2 separate regions of the Homo sapiens genome follow, and region 2 is linked to region 1. Evidence: fine-mapped expression QTL. A gene starts in region 1. The other region holds a variant in brackets. All regions are shown on one strand. Distances are from middle to middle.

Evidence for each region. PIP is the estimated chance that this variant, and not a neighbour inherited with it, causes the effect.
Region 2: its variant is the best candidate, but not a certain one, in a credible set for the expression of DCT in hypothalamus (GTEx, PIP 0.65).

The regions. Positions count from the first base shown.
Region 1 is chr13:94,478,511-94,481,420 of GRCh38, reverse strand. DCT (dopachrome tautomerase) reads left to right here and starts at 1,739. Exons shown (of 8, transcript NM_001922.5): 1 at 1,739-2,460. The coding sequence starts at 2,166.
Region 2 is chr13:94,544,905-94,547,814 of GRCh38, reverse strand. It overlaps a transcript of DCT not described here. Among named protein-coding and RNA genes, the nearest start is that of TRF-GAA1-5, 3.4 kb to the left of the region's middle. The variant C/T (reference allele first, on the strand shown) is at 1,727.

The sequences.
Region 1 (2,910 bases):
GAATGAATGAATGAGCTCCAAAATAAAGGTTTCAAAAACCCCTGAGATTTTGCGATTTTAGAACCCCAAGTTTCTTCCCACCCATGATGTGTTAGGTTGAATGGTGACTTCCCCAAAAGATATGTCCATGTCTCAGAACCTGTGAATGTGACTTTGTCTGGAAAAAAGAGTCTTCTTTGCAGATGTAATTGAGTGAAGAATCTTGAGATGAGATCATCCTGGATTATCTGAGTGGGCTCTACATCCAATAAGTGTCCTTATAAGAAACAGACATGGAGGAAAAACACAGACAGATGGGGAGAAGGCCATGGGGCTGTGGCAGACATTGGAGCTGCGGTTTCAAGCCAAGGATTGACAGCAGCTGCCAGAAGCTTGAAAAGGCAAGGAGGATTCTAGCCTAGAGTCTCCAGGGAGAGTGCAGCCGCCTGGCTGACACACGCCAGTCCTGCCAACACCTTCATTTTAGACTTCTGGCCTTCAGAACAGTGAGAAAATAGATTTCTGTTGTTTTCAGTCATCCAGTTTGTGGTCATTTGTTACAGAAGCCTCAGGAAACTATTGCACATGGTCTCTTTTAGCTGATGCTGATGCAATATTTCCTTTGGAGCTCTGCTGTATTCTGATTCAGTGATTCTCAACTCTGGCTGAGCATTAGAATTGCCTAGATGTTTTCTAACAAAGGTTGGTTGGTGTCTGGAACATCCTCAGAGATTCTGATTCAGTAGGGCTGTGGTACAGGCTGATATTGGTGTAGAGTCAGACATAAGAATTGCCATTTAATTAGTCACAACAACTTAACATCAAGGGGTGGCACAGAGGTACAGGGGGTGGGAATACCTATATAATTGTTTCACCTTAGGAATTTGCTTTGAAACATAACAATATGTGTCTTTACATTCAAGTATATTCTTAGAAACTAGCTGAAGCCGTTTCGCATCCTTGTGGCACTAAGTCCTGTTTCCACTGTGAAACAGTTACCAAGACAGTCCTGTTTCCACTGTGAAAAAATAAATGGATGTTCTGACAGGTGGCCACCATTGCTGACCTGACCATTCTCCAGAAGCACCAGGAGGCATTGCTTTCTAGACTGAAGCTCAGTCATGCTTCACTTTAGTCTAATCAAAAAGATTTGCTTGCAAGCCTTCATTCCAAATGGTTCCAGTGCCTTCCATACAATCAGATAATGACAATTGTGAGTTTCTGGTGGCATGCTACTTCATGTAATTAAAAAAAAATTGCTGCGTAGATGTGCTGAATAGGAGAAGAGTAAGTTATTATTTGGAGGGAAGAGGATTCCCAATTGTGGAACAAAGCAATTCCTTGTACCCTGGTTCTACATAAATGTTTCTTTATTTTTGAAGTTGCATGACCCCCTGTTGTGGTCTTTTTTGCACACATGTCAGAAAGCAGCCATGAGTGCATTGTAGTTGGCAATGTGAGCTTCTGTGTAAAGGGTCTTTGACGAAGAGCTCACTGCATCTACTGACTCCCCAGGATGTCTGAGGTCACAAGTTTGGCTGGAGCACATGAGCCCAGATAAAGAAGATGGTTTTGCCCTCCTGAAATAAAGCCAGAAGTGATCTCCTTTATTGTGCACTTTGGGTCATGTGCTAATGATGAGGGTTTCTGTAATACTAATCCCCCTAATGAAGGCTTCTCCCAGCCCTTACACAAGCCCCCAAGGCCCCGTGGCTTGGCAAGCCAGAGAGAATAAAAGCAGCACGGTGTTTGGCTTTTGAACTGAGTTCAAGGCAATTAAAGTCAAGAGCTAAGGAGGGAGGGAGAGGGTTTAGAAATACCAGCATAATAAGTAGTATGACTGGGTGCTCTGTAAATTAACTCAATTAGACAAAGCCTGACTTAACGGGGGAAGATGGTGAGAAGCGCTACCCTCATTAAATTTGGTTGTTAGAGGCGCTTCTAAGGAAATTAAGTCTGTTAGTTGTTTGAATCACATAAAATTGTGTGTGCACGTTCATGTACACATGTGCACACATGTAACCTCTGTGATTCTTGTGGGTATTTTTTTAAGAAGAAAGGAATAGAAAGCAAAGAAAAATAAAAAATACTGAAAAGAAAAGACTGAAAGAGTAGAAGATAAGGAGAAAAGTACGACAGAGACAAGGAAAGTAAGAGAGAGAGAGAGCTCTCCCAATTATAAAGCCATGAGCCCCCTTTGGTGGGGGTTTCTGCTCAGTTGCTTGGGCTGCAAAATCCTGCCAGGAGCCCAGGGTCAGTTCCCCCGAGTCTGCATGACGGTGGACAGCCTAGTGAACAAGGAGTGCTGCCCACGCCTGGGTGCAGAGTCGGCCAATGTCTGTGGCTCTCAGCAAGGCCGGGGGCAGTGCACAGAGGTGCGAGCCGACACAAGGCCCTGGAGTGGTCCCTACATCCTACGAAACCAGGATGACCGTGAGCTGTGGCCAAGAAAATTCTTCCACCGGACCTGCAAGTGCACAGGTGAGGCCCATGCTCCAAGCTTGGTGGGGAGGGCCAGAGCTGGGGAAAGAGCTCCTTCTAAGGAAGAGATGAGACTCTTGACAGAGACTCTTAGATTAGGCTTTGAAAGGCAAACCAATGATGGTTTTGGTCGGAAGCATATTCAATAAGGCTGATGTGCTGGTTTATTCTTCACACCCTCTAGTACATCTAGTTATGAAGACTAAATAAATATGGCGTGGGCCAAGCCTGCTTATATGAATGCATGCCAACATACTATTGGCTTGTTTGTTGGAAGGGGAATTTAAGAGCTTAAAAGCGTCAGCTTTGAAACTCGGAGCAAGTCCTTTCAAGATGGATTCGGTGCCCTCTCCTGAAATGGGTTTGCACTTGTTGAAAAGGGATGGGTGAAGCTTGGCATTCGGAAGACAGGAGTCAAAGGCAGGTGTTCTGGTCTCAGCATTTCTCATG
Region 2 (2,910 bases), 66 kb before region 1:
TTTTGCTATGTTGGCCAGGCTGGTCTTGAACTTCTGACCTCAAGTAATCCACCCGCCTTGGCCTCCCAAAGTGCTGGGATTACAGGCATGAGCTAGTGTGCCCAGCCAAGATTTCTTAGGTATGGAAAGATTTAACAGGAGTGCCACCAGCTATCACATTTCTAAAGAGTAGGGAAAGGATGCAGGTTCTGGGGTGATAGTGACTTTCATTTCAGACAACCTGAGGTCTGAGCACTCTGCCCAAGGTAATGTTAGTGATGGTGAATCTATGCGGGTCTGCAGCAACCTCAATTCTTGCCTCCTCAGAAGAAAGAATTCGACTGAAGGGCATAAGGCAGAGTGAGAGATGAACACAAGTTTTACAGCGGGAGTGAAAGTTTTTAAAAAGTTTAGAGCAGGGTCAGGCACGGTGGCTCATGCCTGTAATCCCAGCACTTTGGCAGGCCGAGGTGGGCGGATCACTTGAGGTCAGAAGTTTGAGACCAGCCTGGCCAACATGGTGAAACCCCATCTCTACTAAAAATACAAAAATGAGCTGGGCGTGGTGGTACAAGCCTGTAATCCCAGCTACTCGGGAGGCTGAGGCAGGAGAATCCGTTGAACAGGGGAGGTGGAAGTTGCAGTGAGCTGAGATTATGCCACTGCGCTCCAGCCTGGGCAACAGAGTGAGACTGTCTCTTAAAAAAAAAAAGTTTAGAAGCAGGAATGAAAGGAAGTAAAGTACACTTGGAAGAGGGCTAAGCGGGCAAATTGAGAGATCAAGAGCCCTGTTTGACCTCTGACTTAGGGTTTTATACACTGGCATTTCTGGGGTCTTGCATCCCTTCTTCCCTAGTTCTTCCCTTGGGGTGGGCTGTCGCATGCACAGTGGCCTGCTAGTGCTTGGGAGGGAAGCATGCACAGTGTGTTTACTGGCGTTGTACCCATGCTCACTTGAGGCATTCTTCCTTTACCAGCTGAATGTTCCTAGAAGGTCATGTACCAGTTAAATGCTGCCATTTTGCCTCTTAGTGCGCATGCTTCAGCTTACTCGCCCAACTCCTAAGATCTTATCAGGAAACTGATGATGACCAGTTTCAGGTTTTTTCTGTTTGGAGCCTGCCTTTCCCTAGGGCTGGCTGCGACCAATTACCGTTTTAGGGAAACAGTGTAACAACCACTTGCCCACCACCTGTTGGTCTCCTGACATTCCTTGGTGGGGAGGGGGGCTCTCCTGCTGTGCTCATGCCTGACTAGCTCCCTACTGTAACAGGAAGACCAGCTACTGGCTATTGGTGTGGGTGGGGGAAGGATGGAGGCGCACACCTGGTTAGTACCAAAGATAAACCAGACACTAGGTAACGTGGTAAGGACAGATGGTAATCATAATGTACTATTGCAATAGGGAAGAGGGTCCAGCGTGAACTGAACTTTGATTTGTACAGAGGTGACTGGGCATTTTAAGGGACAATGAGGGATTAACGGAGAGGAACCAGTGGGGCTTCAGCAGAGTCAGGAAGGTGAAAACTGACAAAGGATTGACGCATGTAAATGCTGATTAGGCAGCTGTGTCTGCTAGCTGGCAATGATCAAAGTCTGGATTCTGTCCTTCCAGAGACTGGGAGACACTGGCCCTATCCTTCCTGATGATTACATTGTAAAGGAATGGTTTTTTACGTCCTTGATTGCCTTTGTAGGAGATACACAGCCATCTCAAAGGCACAGAGGAAGGAGTCACAATTGTAAG[C/T]CCTTTTTAGTAAGTACTCTAAGAAAGTGCCAGAAGCCTTTCATCAGATGGTGCATAGAATTCTTTTGTCAGTCTTGGGCTTTCTCAAGCAGGCACTCTGAGGGGGTTGAGGCCTGGTCTAGAAGGGGGCTCAGAGAGGCCTGGCTAGCATTTGGTCAAGGAGAAAATCTGTGTCATTAGAAGTGTGAGGAGGGGAGGGTGAAGGGGAAGAGTTAGGCCAGGCCTCCACCTGTTGGTTGAGAAGGCTTTTCAGGTCTTGTGACAGGGAGGAGTGATCGGGAAGCAGGTGGGCAGCATTAAAAAAATACACACACCGCTTATATATATGAAATGAAGGAAGACCACCATGTGAGAAAGCAAAGGCTGTTTATTCAGAGCTTGCTATAGCGAGGGAGTCAGCCACCATCACTGGCATTTGGGAGAGACTCAAAGGCAGGCAGGGGAGTGGGAGAGCTTTACAGCAGACACAAGGGACAGCTTCAGGTGTGCCCTGATTGGAGGCTGTTGGTCTGGGAAGCTGGAGTTAGCTAACTGGGAGCCGGCAGCCATGTGATTATTTAAGGCGCCTTTTGTGGTTGGCCTAAAGTTGGAAATGAGGACAAAAACTAGGAAAGCTGTCAGTTATTAATCAATTCCTGGTCATTTGGAATTAATTATTATAAAAGTTATTGTTTAGCTTCTCAGATTGTTATTTCCCAGACTTCTTGCAAGTCTGGCTTTAGCAGACGGGCTTGCTGGACTGTTTATTGTAGATAAGGGGCTGGTTTCCTGGGCAGGTTATGGTCACAGTTCTGTTTTTATATATGGTCTGACCATGGCCCATTTGGATCTTTGGTTTTATAATATATATTTTACCTGAAGAGGTAACATCTAAAAATGTAATCTGATCATTTTTATCATCATCATCTGAAGCGTGATGTGCTCTAATAGATGTCAAACACTGTCACTTCCCGGGAGTGAAGGCTGAGAAAGACTGAACACCAGGTATCTCCTGGGAACCCCACTGATGCCATGATCACACTTTATAACTTAGGAGGCTATGAAGGGTGAAGGGTGGGAGAATAGGGTCGCCACTTACTTTAGAGAAGGAATGCTTTCAGTGGGAAAGAACACCATCATCATTAAACATTTTTTTGTTGTTGTTTTTTTGAGACCGAGCTGCTATAATTGTTATACATAATAAA